Homo sapiens: one gene and its partners. The gene in region 1 interacts genetically with each later gene. Each region holds a gene or a part of one and is shown in the gene's direction. Other genes may lie near its edges.

Region 1 (7,520 bases):
AAGAAAAATAATAGAATATATTCATTTTTGCATAAAGGTGGGGAAAGAGCAAATTTTTTTTGTATTGTTGTATAAGCGTATTGTCTTCCTGGAAGGATACATAGGACACCAGTAACATTGGAACACTGGTTCCCCATGAAAAAGGCAAACAACTGGGGAACAGCTATCCACGTATAATTCTGTCTATTATTCATATATACACATACTTCAATTTATCCTACATTTTTTAAAAAGGGGAAAGTTTCACGTTATCAAATTCTTTAGGCCAGGCACTGTGGCTCACACCTGTAATCACAGCACTTTGGGACACCAAGGCAAGAGGACTGCTTGAGGCCAGGAGTTCAAGACCAGCCTGGGCAACACAGCGAGACCCTGTCTCTACAAAAAAAAATCAAAAACTGAGGTGGGAGGATCATTTGAGCCCAGGAGGTCGAGGTTGCTATGAGCCATGATCGTGCCATTGCACTCCCACCTGGGTGACAGAGTGAGAACCTGCCTCAAAAAAAAAAAATTCAATTAAATATAGAAAAAATATTCATAGGCTGGGTGCGGTGGCTCACGCCTGTAATCTCAGCACTTTGGGAGGCCAAGGCGGGCAGATCACGAGGTCAGGAGATTGAGACCATCCTGGCTAACGTGGTGAAATCCCATCTCTACCAAAAATACAAAAAATTAGCCAGGCGCGGTGGCGGGCACCTGTAGTCCCAGCTACTCGGGAGGCTGAGGCAGGAGAATGGTATGAACCTAAGAGGCGGAGCTTGCAGTGAGCCAAGATTGTGCCACTGCCCTCCAGCCTGGGCGACAGAGTGAGGCTCTGTCTCAAAAATTCACAATAGAATTTGATATAAAATAAATGCAACATTTTATAAATGCTGTATTATGATACTCTAATAAAGTAAATTTATGACAATAAACTCCAAAGAACCATATTAAAATTGTTTAGTTCATTTCAATCCTGTATCTCTGATCCCATCACTATACAAAGATTTAAAAGAACTTCCTTATGCTGTTAATGTATTTTTCAAAAAGCACTAATAAAATTCCATTGATTAGCAAACCAAACACAGGTCCAAAAATAAAGTTACTAGACTATTTTGCATCAACTCGGTAAATAATACAGCAAGAAAATATTTCCTCAGTATCTATAAATAGGAATTGTGGTTAACAGCAAAAAACCCTAGATAGGAAAAAGCTCTTAATTTTACACTTCAAAAAATGCCAAAAAAGCTTCAAACTTATTACTTGTAAATCAAACTGTAATCAATCAGATATTTTATTTTATGTTGTTATTTATTATTATTATTATTTTTTTTTTGAGAAAGGGTCTCACTCTGTCAGCCAGGCTGGAGAGTAGTGGCCTGAGCATGGTTCACTGCAGCCTTGACCTCCCAAGCTCAGACAATCCTCCTGCCTCAGACTCCCAAGTAGCTGGTACCACAGGCATGTGCCACTACGCCTGGCTAATTTTTTTTTATTATTATTTGTAGAGATAGGATCTCACCATGTTGCCCAGGCTGGTCTCAAACTCTGGGGCTCAAGCAATCCTCCCACCTCAGCCTCCCAAAGTGCTGAGATTAAAGGTGTGAAACTTTCTGTGATACATTTTTAAATGTCAGTTATTTCACAATATCAGATTTTTTATCTTTTATTTTTCAGATGGAGTCTCACTCTGTCACCCAGGCTGGAATGCAGTGGCACAAACTCAGCTCACTGCAACCTCCGCCTCCTGGGTTCAAGTGATTCTCCTACCTCAGCCTCCTGAGTAACTGGGATTAACAGGCCCACACCACAATGCCTGGCTACGTTTTGTATTATTAGTAGAGACGGGGTTTCGCCATGTTGGCCAGGCTAGTCTCAAACTCCTGACCTCAAGTGATCCGCCCACTTTGGCCTCCCAAAGTGCTTCCCAGGCACTTTGTGCTTTACAGGCGTGTGCCACCGCGCCTAGCCACAATATCAGATTTTTATGTTACTGTTTTCTCTAATGATAAAAGCCATGTCATTATCAACTTGTTCACAAGCAAAAGGCCATTTTACACAGTATTAGCATTATATACTTCAACTTTTACCTTCCAATAAATACTTCTTGCTTTCATCTATAGAAATGACAGTGAGATTTTTTTAGTTTATGCTACTATACCTACTACAAATTATGGCATGAAGATTTTGTCAGAAAGGACTATTTCATTGCACAGTTCAGGAATATTTTACATGTTAAGATGAAAATGAACAAGGTGAGCCTCCAATGTATCAAATTCTGTGCTGTAAGAAACTGGAGTTACATCAGGCTTTGGTACACTTTTGAGACTGTAAGGCAAACAGGGTAACAAAAAAATAGATACTGCAATGATACCCATTCCAATTATGAAATAAAACTTAAACTTCAAGTTAATTCACAAACTGCTCTTCAAGTATTCTCTACTTAGCAAAAGCACAATTCAATAAATAAAATCTCAGTCACACAACATGCCTAATAATGAGGGCTCCTTTGCATATCAGATATGCCGTGTACCTGTAGAATAACTTCATTAGTACCTAAAGGTCATCTGAATCAACAACCACCAATATTCACTGATACTAAATTGTGGGAAGAAATGTCTCATTTGCTGTCATATAAAACCAACATTACCTGAATAATCATAGGTGTCTACTTTTCAAGATGTGAAAAAAACTTCATATATTACCTTGATCAGTAATTCATAACCCTGGTTGCACATTAAAATAACTTCTGGTAATTCCTAAAATATACTGATGTCAACCTCATCAGAACTGGAGGAGGAGTGCATCAGTAGTGTACTAAAACTCCTCAGTGATCCTAATATGTAGCCAGGAATGAGAATTATCAATCTCTTAGATTAGAGATGCTCCTGAAGGTTACTCTATAAACCAATGGGATCAGTTCTCCCCTCCATATCTTTCCGTGCACAACAGTGGAAGGGAAAAATGAGTGCCACATATTTCAAATGATTTTTTAGCAAATTGATTCTGGAGCATGTATACATGGTAGAATCTCAAACTTCAAGCATAAGAAAATTCATAAACTCTATCGTTAATGCCCAGCTATGACGATGCTGCAGACTTGTGCAAAGAGTTAATAGACTGTACTACTAACAGGGGAGGGGGCAGCTCACCCAATAACAGATGTCTGATTACAGACGCAGTACAAGAGCGAAAAGTACAGACTTTAAAGCCGGTCAACCCGGGGCTCTGCCACACACTGTTTACCTAAACCTGGGTTTCCTCCCTGTAAAATGGGAATTCACATCTACTTCATAAGTAGATATTAACGAGCTAAAACACCTAACTTAGTACGTAGTTACGATGATGATGACTCAATTTATAATACTAAGCTAATTAATGTCTGTTGAGTTTAACTAAAAGCAGAGGACCTGGAGAAAAGACCGGTCTAGGTCACTGCCACTGGCCCGCAAGCTCCTTTTCACAAATGTCCCGATGATGACATGTCATGAGCAGAAGACCAGGCAATTTCAGGCCATAGGAGAGAAAGGATGCAGAGGACAGGACGAGACTTGTAATGCCAAAAGGGGCCCAGAGGCCGCGCATCCCACCTATCGAAGCCTGGGCCGCGGCGATGCCGCCAGGTCTCCAGGATGAACCGAAGGGAGGCCGATGGTGGAGAATAGAGCACGCAAGGTCCCTCACCTTCACTACAGCTGTCCCCCGGCTGCCCTGCCGGCCACTGTCTACTCCCGCTCCGAGCTTGTTTACAACCAGGGTAGCCATCCTCGCAGGGGAAGCGCCACAGAAACAGCCTTCAGAGTCCTCAACTGAGAGGCGGGGTTGAGCCACCTACCCAGAGGCCTCTGCGCACGCCACCGGCGCACAGGCGCAGTAGGACACTGGGCGCCGCTTAGCCGACTCTTACTCCTCCTCCCCGCAATCGTCGGGTGGTTAGTTGCACAGCCTCGCGCATGGGCACTTTTGTTATTTTTCATTATGTAGTCTGCAGCTGCTGGAGGAAAGACAAGAAAAAAAAAGAAGGGACAAAACGATTAAAGTTTTGGGGTGAAAACTCCAGATCCTTTAATGATTTTTCCTCTCGAATCCAAACCAGCCAGGGCGTGAACTGAGGGCGGTGAGGGGGTACGGGCATCTCCCTGCATGCAACGCGGTTTTTGTATAAACTACAAATCCCAGCATGCCACTCTCTCTCTCTCTCTTTTTTTTTTTTTTTTTTTTTTTTAAAAAAAAAACTCCGGCAACGTTGGCCTTTGGGAGGCCGCGTATTGTTACCTAGGGGTGGTTTCTTTTCCTGCAGTCGCGATGTGTGATTGCAGATGGAAAACAAAGTATTTTATGCCTACGTTTCTAAGATAGAAGAAATGGACTTGTTGAAAAGAAGCCAGTTTGTAAAGGACACAGTAGGAGAATTTAAGGTACCACCACCAGAGAGAGGTTGAGAGTGCGTTTGACTTTTGGTTTTGCCAAACGCGAGGTTTTCCGTTTCCTTCCGGGGCAAGTTGAACCTGTCCAGCCCCCGTAGGCTGTGGGTCAAAAGTGCCGGTCAAAATGGAAGTGAATCCCCCTAAACAGGAGCACCTGCTGGCGCTAAAAGGTAAACTTTTGCGAACCTGATTCCCCCTTTTCTGTTTCCTTGCATTCCCTACTTATCGAAGCCTTTGCCATGTAGGCCTCATCCTTCTTAAACACTCAGTGCTCGCCCTCCTGCTCTGTCCTTTGCCGCCAAGCGGGAGGAAGCGATTTCTCCTGGATGCTTTTTAGGTTTATGGGCCCCTTTCTAGAACGAAATAGATACCTGGTAAATCGTTCTTTCTGATCTGTGCTGCTTCAGTCACGAGATTTTAGCCGCAGAAGCTGACGTCCCGCTCCTACCGTGGAGATCTCTGTGAATTACAGCGGGCATCCAAAGTGCTTTTTCCTTCTGTCTCTTGTTTCTTCCTGTGGCACTGACGAAGTTAATCAGGCTTCAGCTTCCCCTGTAAAATTAGTATTGCATGACAGTAGTGCAGAGAATTTAGCAATACATAGTAATACAACATATAACTTAGATTTATTCAAAACAAACTGCAGTTTACTTCAAATCACTGTGTATGTGGGAAATATGTCCGAGATCTAATGTCAACTCTCATTTTTTGTACACAGCCATTTTGAGTAAGTTTGGTGATTTAATTAGATCATTATTTAGGAAAAAACAGCAGCACTTTTTTTTTTAGGACAATTTTTTTAATGCCTATTTTCTGGAAACCTTTTATTTGAAATCTTTTCAGCTTTATTTTATTTGTTTTTTACTACAACAAATGCGCTTTTTGTTTCTTGGATGCCTTAATATATGGTTAACAATGACTTCTTGAATGAGCTGAGGAAATGCTCAATAAACATTCGGGTTCAATTGAATTGCGCTTACTTTACTTATGGCATCCATTTTGAGGAACGCCTTATCCTTCCCATTATGATGTAGTCATCAGACTTTCTAGAAGCTCATCAGTCTCATATAATGATGCCTGTGTTAGCGAGATTGTCTCTTACTGTGGAACTTTGTAATGTTTAGTGATACAGTGATGGGACCTGTAAGCTTAACCTGAGCAAATGATCTAGACTAAAATGGAGATTAAAATGGATTGTTACTCGTGGAGAAGAGGGAAAAGAAGAAAAGCAACTAATTGTCGTGTTCTTTATCTCACAATCTCACTTCAAGTATGTGGAGTAAATATTAATTCTCAGAGTTTAAGTAACTTTTCCAAGATCACATAGCTAGTGATTGAGGCAGTGTTTCAACGCAAGGCCTGCCTCTCTTTCCAAGAGTCCGTGTTGCCTCCTAAAGAATGAAGCAGCATTCTCAGAGATAATTCCTCTACCAGCTACTCCGATGGGAATTTGGAACAGTTCTATTAACTGCTACGTGTGATTTATACAAATTAGAAGCTATTAAAAACAGTTAAATTGCAGCCGCGCGTGGTGGCTCACCCCTGTAATCCCAGCAGTTTGGGAGGCCAAGGCGGGTGATCACAAGGTCAAGAGATCAAGACCATCCTGGCTAACATAGTGAAACCCCGTCTCTATAAAAATACAAAAAGTTAGCCAGGCGTGGTGGCGGGCGCCTGTAGTCCCAGTTACTCAGGAGGCTGAGGCAGGAGAATGGCGTGAACCCGGGAGGCGGAGCTTGCAGTGATCCGAGATCACGCCACTGCACGCCATCCTAGGCAACAGAGCGAGACTCCATCTCAAAAAACAAACAAACAAAAAGTTAAATTCCAGTGATACAGAGACTGCCACTGGGAATTTTTAGTTTTCTGTTATTCTTTTTTTTCCAAAACCAAGGATACCTAAGAAAGAATATTTAAGCAGCCTAAGCCAGGCGTGGTGGCTCACGCCTGTAATAGCACTTTGGGAGGCCGAGGCTGGCAGATCACTTGAGATCAGGAGTTGACACCAGCCTGGCCAACATGGCGAAAACCCGTCTATACCAAAAATACAAAAATTAGCCAGGTGTGGTGGTGTAATCCCAGCTACTCGGGAGACTGAGGCAGGAGAACCGCTTGAACCTGGGAGGCAGAGGCTGCAGTGAGCTGAGATTGCGCCACTGCACTCCAGCCTGGGTGACAGAGTGAGACCCTGTCTCAAAAAAAAAAAAAAAAAAAAAAAAAAGAACAATAAGCAGCCTAAACGGACAAGTGCTTCAAAATTGACTGATAGTTTCAACTTTATTAAACCTCTTTAGTACCATCTTATAGTTAACCCATTGTTCTAGTTAATCAACAATTTTCACACATTTCAATGTGCTGATGCTGAATGCCAAATGTATTAATTTAAGTGGTCATTTAAGTTCACTTTATCTTTTAATATGTAAAATGTTAAAGATAATATCTTGTTATTCTTGGTTGGGTGAGGTGGCTGATCACTTGAGATCAGGAGTTCGAGACCAGCCTAGCCAACATTATGAAACCCCGTCTCTACTGAAAATACAAAAATTAGCCAGGCGTGATGGTGTGCACCAGTGGTCCCAGCTACTCAGGAGGCTGAGGCACAAGAATCACTTGACCCTGGGAGGCGAAGGTTGCTGTAAGCCGAGATTGTGCCACTGCACTCTAACCTGGGCAACAAAGACTCTGTCTCAAAAAAAAAAAAAAAGTCATCCCTTGAGTATAACACTGATTGACTTTAGACAACAAGAGAATTTCTCAGTGCCATATTTTACAATGTGAAAGTATAAGGAACAGGGAAGAAAAACATTAGTGCATCATTAGTTCTTGAAAGTATATATGATAACATTTAGATCCATATTTAAAATATGGATGTTAAAGATCACAATTATTTATGAATTTGAGAGTTGTCAGATCTGTTAGTGGGCAGTATCAGTAGGTAAAAATAATGAAATTATTTCTTCTAACTCTTCAGAATCAGACAGTGATTCTATTGTGAAATGATGACAAGAATCCATACTCATGGTTATCCTAGCAGTGGGAGAACCCTCATCAAGTAATTCTCTAATGATTTTTGGGGAGAAGGGATTCAACTTATTTTTTTCTGCTGTTGTTAGG
Region 2 (7,024 bases), on another chromosome or scaffold:
GGGAAGTTATTGGTCCAGCTGGCAAGACTCCAGGGCAAGGTTTCTTGGCATTTGGTACCAGATAATCTGGGACTGATTTTGAAGAGATAAATCTAGGAGATTCTAGAATCTAGGCAGATTCAGAAAGTCTGTCTTTCGGGCATTATTATCCAAGTATTCAGCTCTAGGGCAAGACAATTTTTTGGTTAGTTGCAAGAAGTAGTTGCCCCCTCTCCTCCTCCACTTCTGCAATTCTTTTTCCTCCACTGCTTACGAATTGTTCCTTCTGCCTTCTCAGCCTGTTCTCAGGAAGGGGCCTGATAAACTCTTTAACTCCAAAATGTAAATGAGTGAAGTCTCTCAGGGGCTAGAGAAGTATGAGTTTTGTACTGGTGTTTGATGAAATGAATTAGATACAATTATACTGCTCCCAGATATCTCTGCCTTTCAGTCAAGTTTTCAGAAAGTTTTGTACCAAACACATGAAGCTCTAGGAGCATAGGTTTGTGTATAGTTTCAAGCATAATTAAGGAGGTGGAAGAGGTATTTTTTAGTGGGTGTAGGCATCTTAGTGCTTCTGATATCATACACATTAGAGGCAGCCTACTCCATTTACTTATTCACTTGCTCTGACTAGGACACAAACTAAAGATTTTGTTATCTGAAAAATGGAGAGTGGATCTCATATAGACAGCTTTGGTCTGAAACCTGAATATTGTTCCCAAAGATAGCTTTATGTTGGTTGAAGTCAGCCTGCTTCCTGTGAAGTTTTTCCTAAGTTAGTTTCTGACTTCAAATAAGCAACTTCTAGGAAAGATACAGAGTGATGAAGATGTGTAGGTTAACTGTCAGAGGGACTAAACTTACACACTGAAAAGGAGAGTTGGACAAAAGTACTAGGCTTTTTCTTTAAAGCGAGGTGATTTAGTAGGCAAGATGATTTACTAGGCAAGATGATTTAGTAGGATTCTCATTATTTCATTTATTACTTATGAGTCTTTTAAGATTTTCAAAGTGGGCTGGTTTTGGTGTGTGTGACTTATGGCCTAGAGTTCCAAGTTCTCCCCAGGTGGAAGCAGCTTGTTTTCTTCACTGATAAAAGGCTTCCTAGGCATAAAGCTCCTCTCATATCCTCCTGCTATAAGTTTGCAATTCCCCTTTTCTTCCACAGGTGGGCAGCATGTTCATAGCAGATGCCCATGAGAAAATCTCAGTACAGTAAGTGCCTGACATTCTTGTGCAGTGACTTGGACTTTAGTGTGGGCTGTCCTGCTGGATATGAGAGTGTGCAGTGTTACCTCTTGCTAATCTTTTACAGAATCATACTTTTTTGGTGATTTTCAAATGTTTCATGGGTTTTGAACATTAATGGACCCTTAGAAATTTCTGCTTTTCATATGTATTGAGCGACAATAAGCTGAACAACTGTTGCCAGACTATCTCTGCAATGAAACAAAAGAGGGATGGGTGTCTGAGCCAGTTGAGGACTTAACTGGGTTGAGGTGGAAAAACAGAGGGAAGATAATGAAGTAGATGAGAACTGGTCCTAAGGAATTAAAGTGAAGGCCCTGACTCCTGCCTATACACTTTTGCATACGCCCAAATGGCAAGTAAAGGGGAACTTTAGAAATGCAAAGGAATTGATAATGAGGCGCTGGGGTGCAATCCAATCTTATCTTCATGGTTATACTGTTTTAACTCCCCCCACTATAAAAACTGCTCCAATTTGTTCTCTTTTTCTTTAGAACCAATGAGGCCATTCTTCTGGCACTTTATGAAGCTGTTCATTTAAATCGCAACTTCATCACAGTATTAGCTCAGGTTGGTCACATTAAAAATCCCAGTGTTTTTTTCTCTCTAAATTTCATACCGATTAATTCCATTGAAAAGCCTATCTGGCTGTACTTGTTTAAACCCTGCTTTGCATTGGTAAGTGGTAGTAACAAGGAGTTGAATCAGTTGCCTTTGTTTCCTGCTGTCCTCAAATATGTATGTTTCCATTGGTGCTGAAATGGGTCTAATAACGTGCAAAGTTAGTTTTTTTGGCCAATTTATTGATCCTGTTAACCCAAATGAATTGTCATGACTTCATTTTGCTCACTAGAAATCCCTGGTATTATCCGCTATGTGGATTTTTATATTGGGCTTTCTGCTTTCCACACCACTGTGGAATTACAACTGGAGATAAAATAGGCCAAGCCACTCACCTTATTATCTCACCAATTTCCAGAGGAAAAAAGTAAAAAATATCCTGGCCAGGTTAAGGTTAGCTGTTAACAGATAACGTGGTTTACATACATTGAAAGGAAGTCATAGAATACTGAGCGCTGGGCCCTGCGCTGTGGCTCACGCCTGTAATCCCAGCACTTTGGGAGGCTGAGGTGGGCGGATCACAAGGTCAGGAGATCAAGACCATCCTGGCTAACACGGTGAAACCCTGTCTCTTCTAAAAATAAAAAAAAAATTAAAAAAAAAATAGCTGGGCGTGGTGGCGGACGCCTGTAGTCCCAGCTACTTGGGAGGCTGAGGCAGGAGAATGACGTGAACCCAGGAGGCAGAGCTTGCAGTGAGCCGAAGTCGCGCCATTGCACTCCAGCCTGGGTGACAGAGTGAGACTCTGTCTCAAAAAAAAATAAAATAAAAACAAAACATAACAAAATAAAACAAAATAAAAAAACAAACAAAAATACCCCCAGAATACTGAGCGATGGGTCACATGCCTGAGGGATAGCCACAGTAATTGGCATAGAAGAGGACTAAAGTAGACCAAGAACTCAAGAGCTGTCCATGAAAGCCATTTTAAAAAATTGATAAAGTGTTATTATCTTAAAGCCAGACTGTTTAAAATATGTATGTAGGGTTATTTTAAGGGAAAGTTTGCTTATGCTTTTTCTCAAAGGGTAGATGTATATGGAATCTATTGATTTGAATTTTAACACAAAAATAAGGTCATGCTTAAAAAGCATCATGCTGGTTTGAGATCTGCTTCATAGAACACTTAAGAGTTTTCATGACTGATAACATAGAGACTTTAGTTATTATTTTCACTCGTTTCTTATCTGCTCTCCAAATCCTATAACTGATTGTAAAGGAAGAGGTGAGGAAGGTAAAGTGCTGGTAAAGCTGTTAGGGAAGAAAAGGGAAGTTAAAAACAGCTATCACTCAGCTTAATTCTCAAGAGCTGATGTGGGAGGGATGGCTAAGAAAGGTTAGGGACAGAAGAGTCATCTGTTTTGGTCCCTACTGGGTGTCTCACCATGTCTTTGCCTCCCAATGAAGGCACACACACTTTTGTTTGTTGTGGAACAGGAAGGCCGCCATCTGAATAGCTCTTTTGCTTTTTTTTTTTTTTTTTTTTTTTGGAGATGGTGTCTCGCTCTGTCACCCAGGCTGGAGTGCAGTGGCACGATCTCTGCTCACTGCAAGCTCTGCCTCCCGGGTTCACGCCATTCTCCTGCCTCAGCCTCCCGAGTAGCTGGGACTACAGGTGCCTGCCACCACACCTGGCTAATTTTTTTTTTTTTTTTTTTTTTTTTTTAGTAGAGACAGAGTTTCACTGTGTTAGCCAGGATGGTCTTGATCCCCTGACCTCGTGGTCCATCTGCCTCGGCCTCCCAAAAGTGCTGGGATTACTGGTGTGAGCCACCGCACCCGGCTGAATAGCTCTTTTTATAGTACCTGGTATCCCCTTGACTCATCTACATCTGCTAGTCAATTATTTGGTTATCAGAACAGCCTATTGATGTGTTTTAGGTTGATCTGATGAGATCCCAGGTCTGGATGGGATTGCAAATGTTCTCTGCTCTCTTGTAGAATAATCCTGTATATTTGTTGACCCCAGTTTTTTTTTTTTTTTTTAAATGTCTGTGGTGCCACAGAAAAACTTATGTAATGGGAACCTAGTTGCTTAAGATAAATTAGCACACAGAGCTTATTAGAGATTAGCAAGCATCAGTCGTAATCAAGTACTCATGAGAACGAAATACAGAAGTAGTCCCTTCTCAGCTTTTTTTTTCTTTTTTTTTTTTTTTTTTTGAGATAGAGTCTTGCTGTGTCACCAGGCTGGAGTGCAGTGGCGTGATATCACCTCACTGCAACCTCCGCCTCCTGGGTTCAAGTGATTCTCCTGCCTCAGCCTTCCAAGTAGTTGGGACTACAGGCATGCACCACCATGCCTGGCTAATTTTTTGTATTTTAGTAGAGACGGGGTTTCACCGTGTTGGCCAGGATGGTCTCGATCTCCTGACCTTGTGATCTGCCCAGGCCTCCCTAAGTGCTGGGATTATGGGTGTGATCCACTGTGCCCAGCCTCAGTGAGCTTTCTAATTATGAGACTAGGGGCACAGTGGCATGCATCTGTAGTCCTACGTACACAGGAGGCTGAGGCAGGAGAGTGCTTGAGCCTAGGATTTCGAGACCAGCTTGGACAACATAGCAAGATGCTGTCTCAAAAAAAAAAAATTATAAGGTCCAGAATACCAGTCCTTATTGGTATTAGGCACTTGATACTCAGGGAGAACTGGATTTTCTGTTTTCTTACACATCTGTGTATCTTTTTCAGAGCCATCCAGAAATGGGCTTGGTGACGACCCCTGTCAGTCCTGCTCCTACAACCCCAGTCACACCACTTGGGACCACACCGCCTTCCTCTGATGGTGAGCCCACCACCACTTTGTTTTTCTTGGTTAATATGATCTTAGATCTCTCAGAGTGAGCATAGCTGTGTTCAACAAAGAACCTACGTAGTTGTTAATTTTTCCCACTAAATTGGTCTGTAGTACTATCCTTCAGGCCTCCTAAATTTCCAAAGAAAACTTTGGAAAAAGACAGTCCAGTGATTTTCTCTGTAAAAGAAGCTTACATAACTCTAGCTTTTCCTCCTCAGGGAGTAGTTGTAGAGGCATGGAGTGCTAGACCTGCAAGGTCAGTAATGCCTGTCCTGCCACACTCTCAGAGTCCTTGTGAGGCTCAGATGAGATATTTTGTGAAAAATGTCACCTTGTGATTATAAAGCACTGAAATGAATGTAAAATAGTAATGTTATCTGATGTTACCATTTGATCAATGAGGGAATTAAGGCCAGAGAAATGAAGCAGTTTGCCTAAGATTAGTGAGAGTAGAGACTGAGAACCCAAACATGTAAGCAGGATCTTGTCTATTTTGTTTACTACTAAATGCCTAGCATAGTGCCCAGCATGGTACTTGCTTAATAAATATTTGTTGAATAAATGAATGAGAATGTGAACCTGGCACTCACTCACTGTTATGTGTCTATCAGCCACTCCCAGTTGGAAAGGACAGGCTTTGAGTGTATTATAATTGGGAGTTTGGTGGATACGTAAGATTTATCTCCCTCAAGACAACAACGGTGAAAATTTCCCCTTCATAAATCTTATGGCTGGAACCTAAGAAAAAGGCAACAGAAAAGAAATTATGAATTTTTGCCAAAAATTTTGAGGTCTATTATAGGCTGAGTGTGTTTGGTGGAATATTGTAACCTAAAAACAATCTATGTTAATATTTGATGTTGTAGCTCAAAGATTGACCTTGTTTTGGTAAAGAAGTACAGACAATCCAACTTTGATACTTTCTTTTTGCCTCCCCACTGTTTGTACGTGAAATGACCTTCTTTATTCTTTCTCTCCTTTAAGTTTTCATATACCACCCGTGGCAGTAACATTTCCAGGCAGTATAAACAGTACAGAACTATGACAGGGAGGTGCCATTGTTAGTTATATATATGGTAGCAAATTGGATCTGTTTAGAATTGAAAGCCAAATCCCAAAATATCTTTTTTTTTTTTTTTTTTTTTTTGAGACAGAGTCTTGCTGTCATTTAGGCTAGAGTGTGGTAGTGTGATCTCGGCTCACTGCAACCTCTGCCTCCCAGATTCAGGCGATTCTCATGCCTCAGCCTTCTGAGTAGCTGAGATTACAGGCATGTACCACAATGCCCGGCTAATTTTTGTATGTTTATTTTTATTTATTTATTTGTTTTTGAGACGGAGTCTCGCACTGTTGCCTAGGCTGGAGTGCAGGGGTGCGATCTCAGCTCACCGCAACCTCCACCTCCCAGGTTCAAGTGATTCTCCTGCCTCAGCCTCCCTGGGACTACAGGTGTGTGCCACCATGCCCGGCTAATTTTTTGTATTTTTAGTAGAGATGGGGTTTCACAGTGTTAGCCAGGATGATCTCGATCTCCTGACCTCGTGATCCGCCTGCCTCGGCCTCCCAAAGTGCTGGGATTACAGGCGTGAGCCACCACGCCTGGCCAATTTTTGTATTTTTAGTAGAGATGGGGTTTCACTGTATTGGCCAGGCTGGTCCCGAACTCCTGACCTCAGGTGATCCGCCTGCCTCGGGCTCCCAAAGTGCTGGGATTACACCCATGAGCCACCATGCCCAGCCCCAAAATATCTTACTGAGAAGGAGCAAGTAGTAAGGATTGCCTACTTGTCTCTGTTTATTCAGGCCACAGAATAACCCAATGGAAATACAGTACTTTCTCTTTAAGAATGAACCCTGCCTGGTTACCATGGATATCAAAAGCCATATATATATATATGAGTTCCATGTGATGTTGGGGTTTGGATGCTTCAGAGAACTGCCTTTCAAACTGTTCATTGTGAACACTTCCACCCACACACTTGATTATGCAATGGTAGGATTTGTGCTTACTTACCTACAACCAGTGAGCTTTTATTTTTTCTAGTGGGAAGATCAAGTCAGCCCACTTTCAAATGACTGTCTCCCTTGACAAAAGCTGCTGGGAAGAATTATGAAGCCAAAGATCAAGGAATGACTCTTCCTTAGGAAGAAGATTTTAATTTGTGAGGGATTTTATTCTGTCTCTGTTCTATTTGTTCTTTTCCCTGTCTCCTAACTCATTTCCTTCTGTAGGGTTCCTAAGTATTACAACCTTGTTTTTAATTTTTAGATCTTAATTATAGTGGTGTTCAGTAGCCCACTTATATTTAAAGGTATGTCACCAGAGCCATATTTTTAAAAGCCGGCAGTTTAGCTATAACATTTGTTCTCAGCTCAGA
Region 3 (7,024 bases), on another chromosome or scaffold:
GTGGACACCCCCCCATGCGTGCCCAGATGCAGACACACCCCTGTCACCTCTGCCCAGATGTGGACACACCCCTCCCCATGCGTGCCCAGATGCAGACACACCCATGTCACCTCTGCCCAGATGTGGACACAGCCCTGTTACCTCTGTCCAGATGTGGACACGCCCCCCATAGCTGCTCAGATGCAGACACAACCTCCTCGCTTCTGCCCAGATATGGAGTCATGGGTACCCTGTCCCCCCAGTGGGTCTCTTGTGTCCCCACCTTCTCTTGACCTCTTCTCACCACCACAAGGTGTTGCAGGAAGTCAGGGACTGCGAACAGAGGGACCTGCTGAAGCCGTGACAGAAGAACATAAATTGTGAAGATTTCATGGACATTTATCACTTCCCCAATCAATGCTCTTATAATTTCCTATGCCTGTCTTTACTTTAATCTCTTAATCCCGTCATCTTCGTAAGCTGAGGATGTATGTTGCCTCAGGACCCTGTGATGATTGCATTAACTGCACACATTGTTCGTAAAGCATGTGTGTTTGAACAATATGAAATCTGGGCACCTTAAGAACAGGATAACAGCAATTTTCAGGGAACAAGGGACAATCGTAAAGTCTGGCTGCCTGGGAGCCGGGTGGAACAGAGCCATATTTCTCTTATTACCAAAACGGATAAGATAAATATCGCTGAATTCTTTCCCCAGTAAGGAATATTAATAATTAACAGCCCGGGAAAAGAATGCATTCCCGGGGCGGGGGGGGGGCCCTCTAAAATGGCCACTCTGGGGGTGTCTGCCATATGCAGTTGCAGATGAGGGATGAAACACACCCTGGCCTCCTGCAGTGCCCCCAGGCTTGCTAGGATTAGGAAATTCCAGCCTGGCGAATTCTAGTCAGATGGGTTCTCTGCTCTTGAACCCTGTTAAGATGTTTATCAATGACAATGCAAGCACAGTGGGACATGGAAGTTCATTAGTGGTTGTAGTTTCGCCCTGACCTTGTGATCTCACCCTGACCTTCTGCCTTGTGATCTTCTGTTGCCCTTGGAGCATGTGATCTCTGTGACCCACACCCTATTCGTACACTCCCTCCCCTTTGAAAATTGCTAATAAAAACTTGCTGGTTTTACGGCTCACGGGGCATCATGGAACCTGCTGACATGTGATGTCTCCCCCAGACACCCAGCTTTAAAATTTCTCTCTTTTGTACTCTTTCCCTTTATTTCTCAGACCGACCGACACAGGGAAAATAGAAAAGAACCTACGTTGAATTATCGGGGGTGGGTTCCCCCGATAACAAGGCTCTGCAAGGATGGTGGCTTTCAGTTTCCAAAAATGTTTCCTAAGCATCAGAGCAGGCTTTCGGAGTGGGAGGTGAAGATGTGGCTCTTCCTGGGCCCGAGGCCTCTTCTCCCTGACTGAGCGCAGTGTCTGCGTCTCTCACTGATGACCGCCTTTCTCGGCTTCTGACCAGGACTGTTTTGAGTTCTCAGTCTCTCGCACAGCCCATTTGCATAGGACTGGGGGGACACCAGGTCTTGTAGCTCACGCCTCCCAGTGGCCACCTCTGAAATTGGGAGGCCTCTTGCTGGGAGACACCAGGAGCATCTGCAGCCAGTGCGCTCTTTCCAGAAAGCCCTTTACCTGTGGCTTAGACGGTGCCCTATTTCTCACTGGGAACTGCCCGTCTTTCTGTTCTGAGTGGTGGTTTCCAGGCAGAGCCCCTGCCTGTCTATGCAGTGGGCACTCACTCTGTGGGGACCTCTGGGACTTGTTCACCCCGAGCCTGGGTACCCAACCTGCCCTGGCCAGCAAAGCCCCTCGGTAAATCTTGTGAGATGCTGAATAAACTCCAGCACCAGCTCGGTCATTGGGCCTCTCACGGCCTGTCTAGCAGCTCGTTTGGACCTGCCCTCAGCCTGGCCAGGCCCGCCTCACCAGCCACCTGCCTCAGGCTCCTCTCAGAGGGCTCTGAAGAGCACAGCTGGTTTGAAAGTTAACGGAATTAGTGGTGGGAACTGTGTCCCTCAGGAGGACTTGGGGGCAGGTGTGACAGAGGACCCTGGGGCAGACCTGGATGCTTCCTGCCTTTAACAGTCATCCTGTGCATTGAAATTCAACCCCCAAATTGAAATAACGATGCAGCCAACATGCTCAGCCTTTGTGCATGAAATCCTAGGCGAGCAGAGAAACGAGCTGGGGATCTTCTTGCAGGCTCACAACTGGGCCCCACCCTCTTTTAGGCAGGGGGAGGTTTTAGCCCTAACACCAGCCCCAGAGGGCCTTGCTGAGGCCTTCATGGTCAGCTCGCTGGCTTGGGGTGGTCTGATTAAATGCCAGGCGAAGGCCGTGTGGGCCTCGAGACGGAGGGAGGGAAGAGGGCGTGCACTGGAGACAGCATCTGACCAAGTGAATGTGTTTGTCCCTTTGTTATTCCGGAACCGCTCAGGTGGACCTGACTTGTTTTGTCGCTTTCTTTGGGGAAAGCCAGATGTTTGAGTTGTTTTGTATTGTTTTCCTTCAAGTTCGAGTTGATTATCTCTAATCACATACTTGCAAGCAAACGCTCTTTAATAGAGGCCTATTAATATGCTTTCTATTTTTTGCTGTGCTCAGTTTTATAGATTTCCCCAAGTAAGGTTCATTTTTGCCATTTAAGGAAAGGAAACAAAGACAGAGCTTCCTAATTATCCTCAGTAATTATTTTCAATAATATCCTTGAGTATACGATATCCTCTCGCGTTTTCTGAACAGACTTCACATTCTTCTTCTTTTCTTCTTCCTTTGGAAAACATCGTGACACTCCCAGCTGGCCAGCTCAGCGTCCCTGGAAGGGAAGGGACAACTGAAGTTCACCTCAGGACGGTGGAGCCCACATCATAACTGCACCCAGGTGGCCACAGCGAACGACACCACCCTCCGTGGCTGGGACACCCGGAGCATGAGGTCAGTGAGCCCACCCGGCGCAGGCCCCACTTCCTTTCCTCCCTCACCGAGCAGAACCGGGATGATGGTGGAGCTGATGGTGAGCCACATGCCTTTGGGGGCGCATGGTTTGTCTTTATCTCGTTTTTGTAGGAAATCATAAATCTTCATCTTGTTTCTTCACCCCAAATTAAGCTAGCACATCCACTGCAATGGAACCGGTGCACCTCGGTGGCTGTTTAATGTTCCATATTGATATCTCTGCATTAGCAGGAGTTTATTATGAAAACTAGGAATTGGGGCTTTTGTAACACTGAGCGAGATGGGGACCACAGGGTGCCCGTGTCTGATGAGCCGCTGCAGGCTGACAGCTGCAGTCCCCAGGTTAAGTCTCTCCTGGGGTCGTCCTTGACCATAGCTGTGCCTTCTGGAGACACACCTATAGGGCAATCATATTTTGTCATTTAAGTAATTATACCCAACAGCCAGCAGCTCTAATGGAACAAATAAGAGCGAGTTTTCCGTTCCAGTTGTGATTTTGATAGGCAAAGGAGTGATGGTAGCACGTCTGTTGCTGTGGCAACGGAAGCCCACACAAGCTTTTTTAAGATACAGTTTATCCCCTCAGCACACCATAATTTATCACCGAGCTGAAAAGACGGATGTCATGCAATAACTCGTGTTGATTCCAGGGTGGGGGCACAACTTTAGGTTTAGTTCCAAGGCCCCTCTGAAAACTCAGGGGCTAATAAAGAATCACTTGCCACTTCCTCCTTTGTGCACGTCCGTGCAGAGGGCTTGTTTGGTTTCCTAATCAGAAGCTGGAAACCACAGACTCAGCCCGTGATGAACGTCCTGCTGAAATCCATTTCTCCATGTCCTGTGGTCATCGTGTCCTTTGTCTGCATGGTTTTTTGAAGGATGTGAAGAATTTCAGTATCTGAAAACAAGAAACTCAAAGACTGACGTTACAGACCAAACAAATAAGCAAACAAAAAGATGCCCGTGGCTTTGATGGGTGACATCTGGCAGTGGCCTCATTTTGCCCGTGTTGTGTCTGTGGTGAGGACGTGCCAGCGCAGCACAGAGGGTCCTGGCGCCTTCTCATTGACTGTCATTTCTCCTTTTGCAAGCAGCTTTGGTTTGCATGGAGCCAGGATGCCTTTGGTGCTTTTTTAGGTGGTATGATGCTTTTGTGTGACAGTTACTGGTGATGGAGCATGCAGTAACCTTTAGTTAATACATCGTGCACGTGCGACTGTCCATCTAGTTCCCCGGGAATTTGCCAAGTTTTAAATTTTCTACCTTTGCCTGTTTCCCTTGAAAGATTTAAAAGTTTAGGTATTATATTTTAGGGAAGAAATATTAAGATATTGCAAAGGTGCAGGATATAAAAACCAGAAGATTTAAAAGTGGTTTAGGGCCGGGAGTTCTAATGTGAGAGAAAAAGATGAAAGGAATTGAGTTCCTCTACTTTGGAGAGCAGAGAACAATGATGGTCTTCAGATAAAGGAAGCAAATTACAAGGCACAGAAGTTTCCCATTGCTCATCAGCCCCATTGAGGCCTGCGGTGAGGAAGGTAAATGATGCAGGAGTGATTTCAGTCCCGCCCACGGCAGTGCTGGGGAGGCCGTGCAGGTAGGAGCTGCTGGGCAGCGCCAGGCCATGGGTTCTTTGCTCTCCTGGGCGCAGCCTTTTGTTCCAAGCCACTGTCCAGCCTCACTGGATGACCTGCCCTCTGGGATTCATGACATCAGGGCCATAGGCAGGATATTATGACTTCAGACCCTGCGAGGAGCAGCCAAGGACCATAGGATCCAGGGCAAAGTGAGATGTGTGAGTGCGTGTGTGCGTGTCTGCCCTCTCATGCATAGATGTGTGCATGTGTGTGTACATACATGTGTGGGCGTGCACACAGATGCACGCGTGAGTGTGAGAACGCACGCACTGTGAACAGCCGTGTGACTCATTTCAAACAGTCCCCTTCTCCCACCCTGGAGCGAGTGGGTTGCACTGGCCACCAGCAGTGTTGGACCTGGAGCTGGTGTGGACAGTGGAATGGCAAGCCCAGCTGGCATGGTCCTTCCTGCTTTCATGGCCTTCCCCACTGCTCCTCCCTTTCTCTCTCTCTCTCTGTATATATCTATAGATAGATAGATAGCCGGCCCCTTCCTGCTTCCATGGCCTTCCCCACTGCCCCCCCCTTTCTCTCTCTCTCTGTATATATATAGTTCTATATATAGATAGATATTTTGTGTTGTATGTGTATGTATGTATATATATATAAAATTTCCCAACACTATATTCTACCTCAACTCCCTGTCTTTTTCTTTTCCTTCTTCACTGTGTCCTTCCAGAAATGTGTCAGGCATCCTGTCCAAATGTCTGGCTCAGTGTCCCCATGGCTGTTGCAGCCCCTCTGGCATGCTTTCATTCTCAAGATGATACCAAGTCACATTTTTGACGGCTACAAAGCAAAAATTCCTTCCACGGCTCGCCCAGAGGGTCACAGATACGCTTCTGGAGAGATGAGCGTGGTGCGACCACACAGGGTTGCTGGGATGGAGGAGGTGGCGCCAGCCTCTTCCTGCAGGGCAGGAACGCCGAGGGGATGAGAGCACCCTGGGCCGGGGGATTAGACAGGGTCCCGGGAAACCAGTGTGTGCCCGCAGCACGCAGTGGCTTTTCCTAATCCATTTACTATTTTCCTTTGCTGTTCTTCCTTCTCCCTCAGCCAGATCTACTGCATAGAGAATGCCCACGGACAGCTGGTGCGGGACCTTGACTTTAATCCCAATAAGCAGTACTACTTGGCCAGCTGCGGAGACGACTGTAAGGTGAAGTTCTGGGACACCCGAAATGTCACCGAACCCGTGAAGACCCTGGAGGAGCACTCCCACTGGTAGGGCCGCTCCTGGCTGCTTCAGGGAGGAGGGGATTACGCAATTGATTTTGCTAATTACTTTACCATTGGGAAAGACACAAACCAGCTTAGTTTGTGCTGCTGTGAATCATTCAATCAACCCAGTTTTATTTTTCCTAAAGAAACACTAATTCCAAATCTGAATGTTTGTGATTTATAAACGTAGGAAAAGAAGAAAAACATTAAATTCTGTTTTCTCTTGAAACAGTGCTGGTTCAAGTATACAAAAATAAATGTGCACAGATGTTCACGCAACATTATTTGTAATGCCAGAAACCTGGAAACCACCCAAATGTCCATCACTAGGGGACTGGTTAAGTAAATTAGGTGACATCCGTGCAGTGGAGATGATGCAGCTGTCGGGAGAATGTGGAGCATCTCTATGTGGCTGTGGGAAGATCTCTGAGGTCACTCATTCTCCCTAACATATTATTTGAATGTTTTTCATGTGCTGGGTACTTTTTGCTAAGTAAGTAAAAAGATCAAGTTGTACAATGGCATGTATAGCATGAATCCATTTTTATGCAAATAAAACGTGTGTGCACACACGGGTGTACACAAGTGTGAGTGACACAGGTATGTGGAGGAAATGTCTGAAAGAGTAAGAGCCAAAATCTCATCAGGAATCCTCCCCAAGTCAAAGAGGGGCATTCACTCCCTATGGCCTGCATCTCTGTATTGTTTGAATTACTTATCTGAAGCTGTATGTTAAAACCCCGGATTGGTAGTGCACACTTCTGATAAATTCAGTGACTTGCTGGAATTTCCTGTGGTCTGAGTGGCTGGGCCTCCCTGTGCCCCTGGCCATGCTGGGTGCACCTCCTAGCGTCAAGGGCCTGGCACTGTCTGCCACCTGGGCCCTGGAGCTTGTTTTGGCCTCAGCATGACGGGAGGCAGAAGCTCCCAGGCTCTAGGACCCACGCCAGCAAGAAAGCTGATCCCAGTAGCCAAAACCAAGGACAGCCCTTGTGCCCCGGGAGGCCGCCATGCCCTGGTCTCAGGACCCACAGTCACTGCCAACTGGGAAGATGCCGTGAGACTTGTTTGATATTACAGGATATCGCTAATCCACATGTTGCTTCTGGGACAGTATTTTTTTTTTTTTTTCGAATTTTAGAAAGCTTGTCTGAAATGTTGCGTGATAAGCCTTCTCCTCCTGTAGGTTTCAGCCAACATTTAGTCT

Evidence for each region. Genes that interact genetically often act in the same process or in processes that back each other up.
Region 2: changes in TRAPPC13 (region 1) and ARMH3 are lethal when combined (synthetic lethality), as found in Homo sapiens cells (one study listed by BioGRID).
Region 3: changes in TRAPPC13 (region 1) and EIPR1 are lethal when combined (synthetic lethality), as found in Homo sapiens cells (one study listed by BioGRID).

What each region holds. Positions count from the first base shown.
Region 1 is NC_000005.10:65,620,531-65,628,050, forward strand, and holds the start of TRAPPC13 (trafficking protein particle complex subunit 13), read left to right. Parts: upstream 1-4,496; 5' UTR 4,497-4,530; coding exon 4,531-4,576; intron 4,577-7,520. Other genes in the region: E3 ubiquitin-protein ligase TRIM23, read right to left, coding at 3,664-3,744.
Region 2 is NC_000010.11:102,004,150-102,011,173, reverse strand, and holds part of ARMH3 (armadillo-like helical domain-containing protein 3), read left to right. Parts: intron 1-1,150; coding exon 1,151-1,197; intron 1,198-1,724; coding exon 1,725-1,800; intron 1,801-4,540; coding exon 4,541-4,634; intron 4,635-6,690; exon of another isoform or gene 6,691-6,808; intron 6,809-7,024. UniProt on the Homo sapiens protein: Involved in GBF1 recruitment, Golgi maintenance and protein secretion.
Region 3 is NC_000002.12:3,192,795-3,199,818, reverse strand, and holds part of EIPR1 (EARP and GARP complex-interacting protein 1), read left to right. Parts: intron 1-2,801; coding exon 2,802-2,938; intron 2,939-5,652; coding exon 5,653-5,820; intron 5,821-7,024. UniProt on the Homo sapiens protein: Acts as a component of endosomal retrieval machinery that is involved in protein transport from early endosomes to either recycling endosomes or the trans-Golgi network.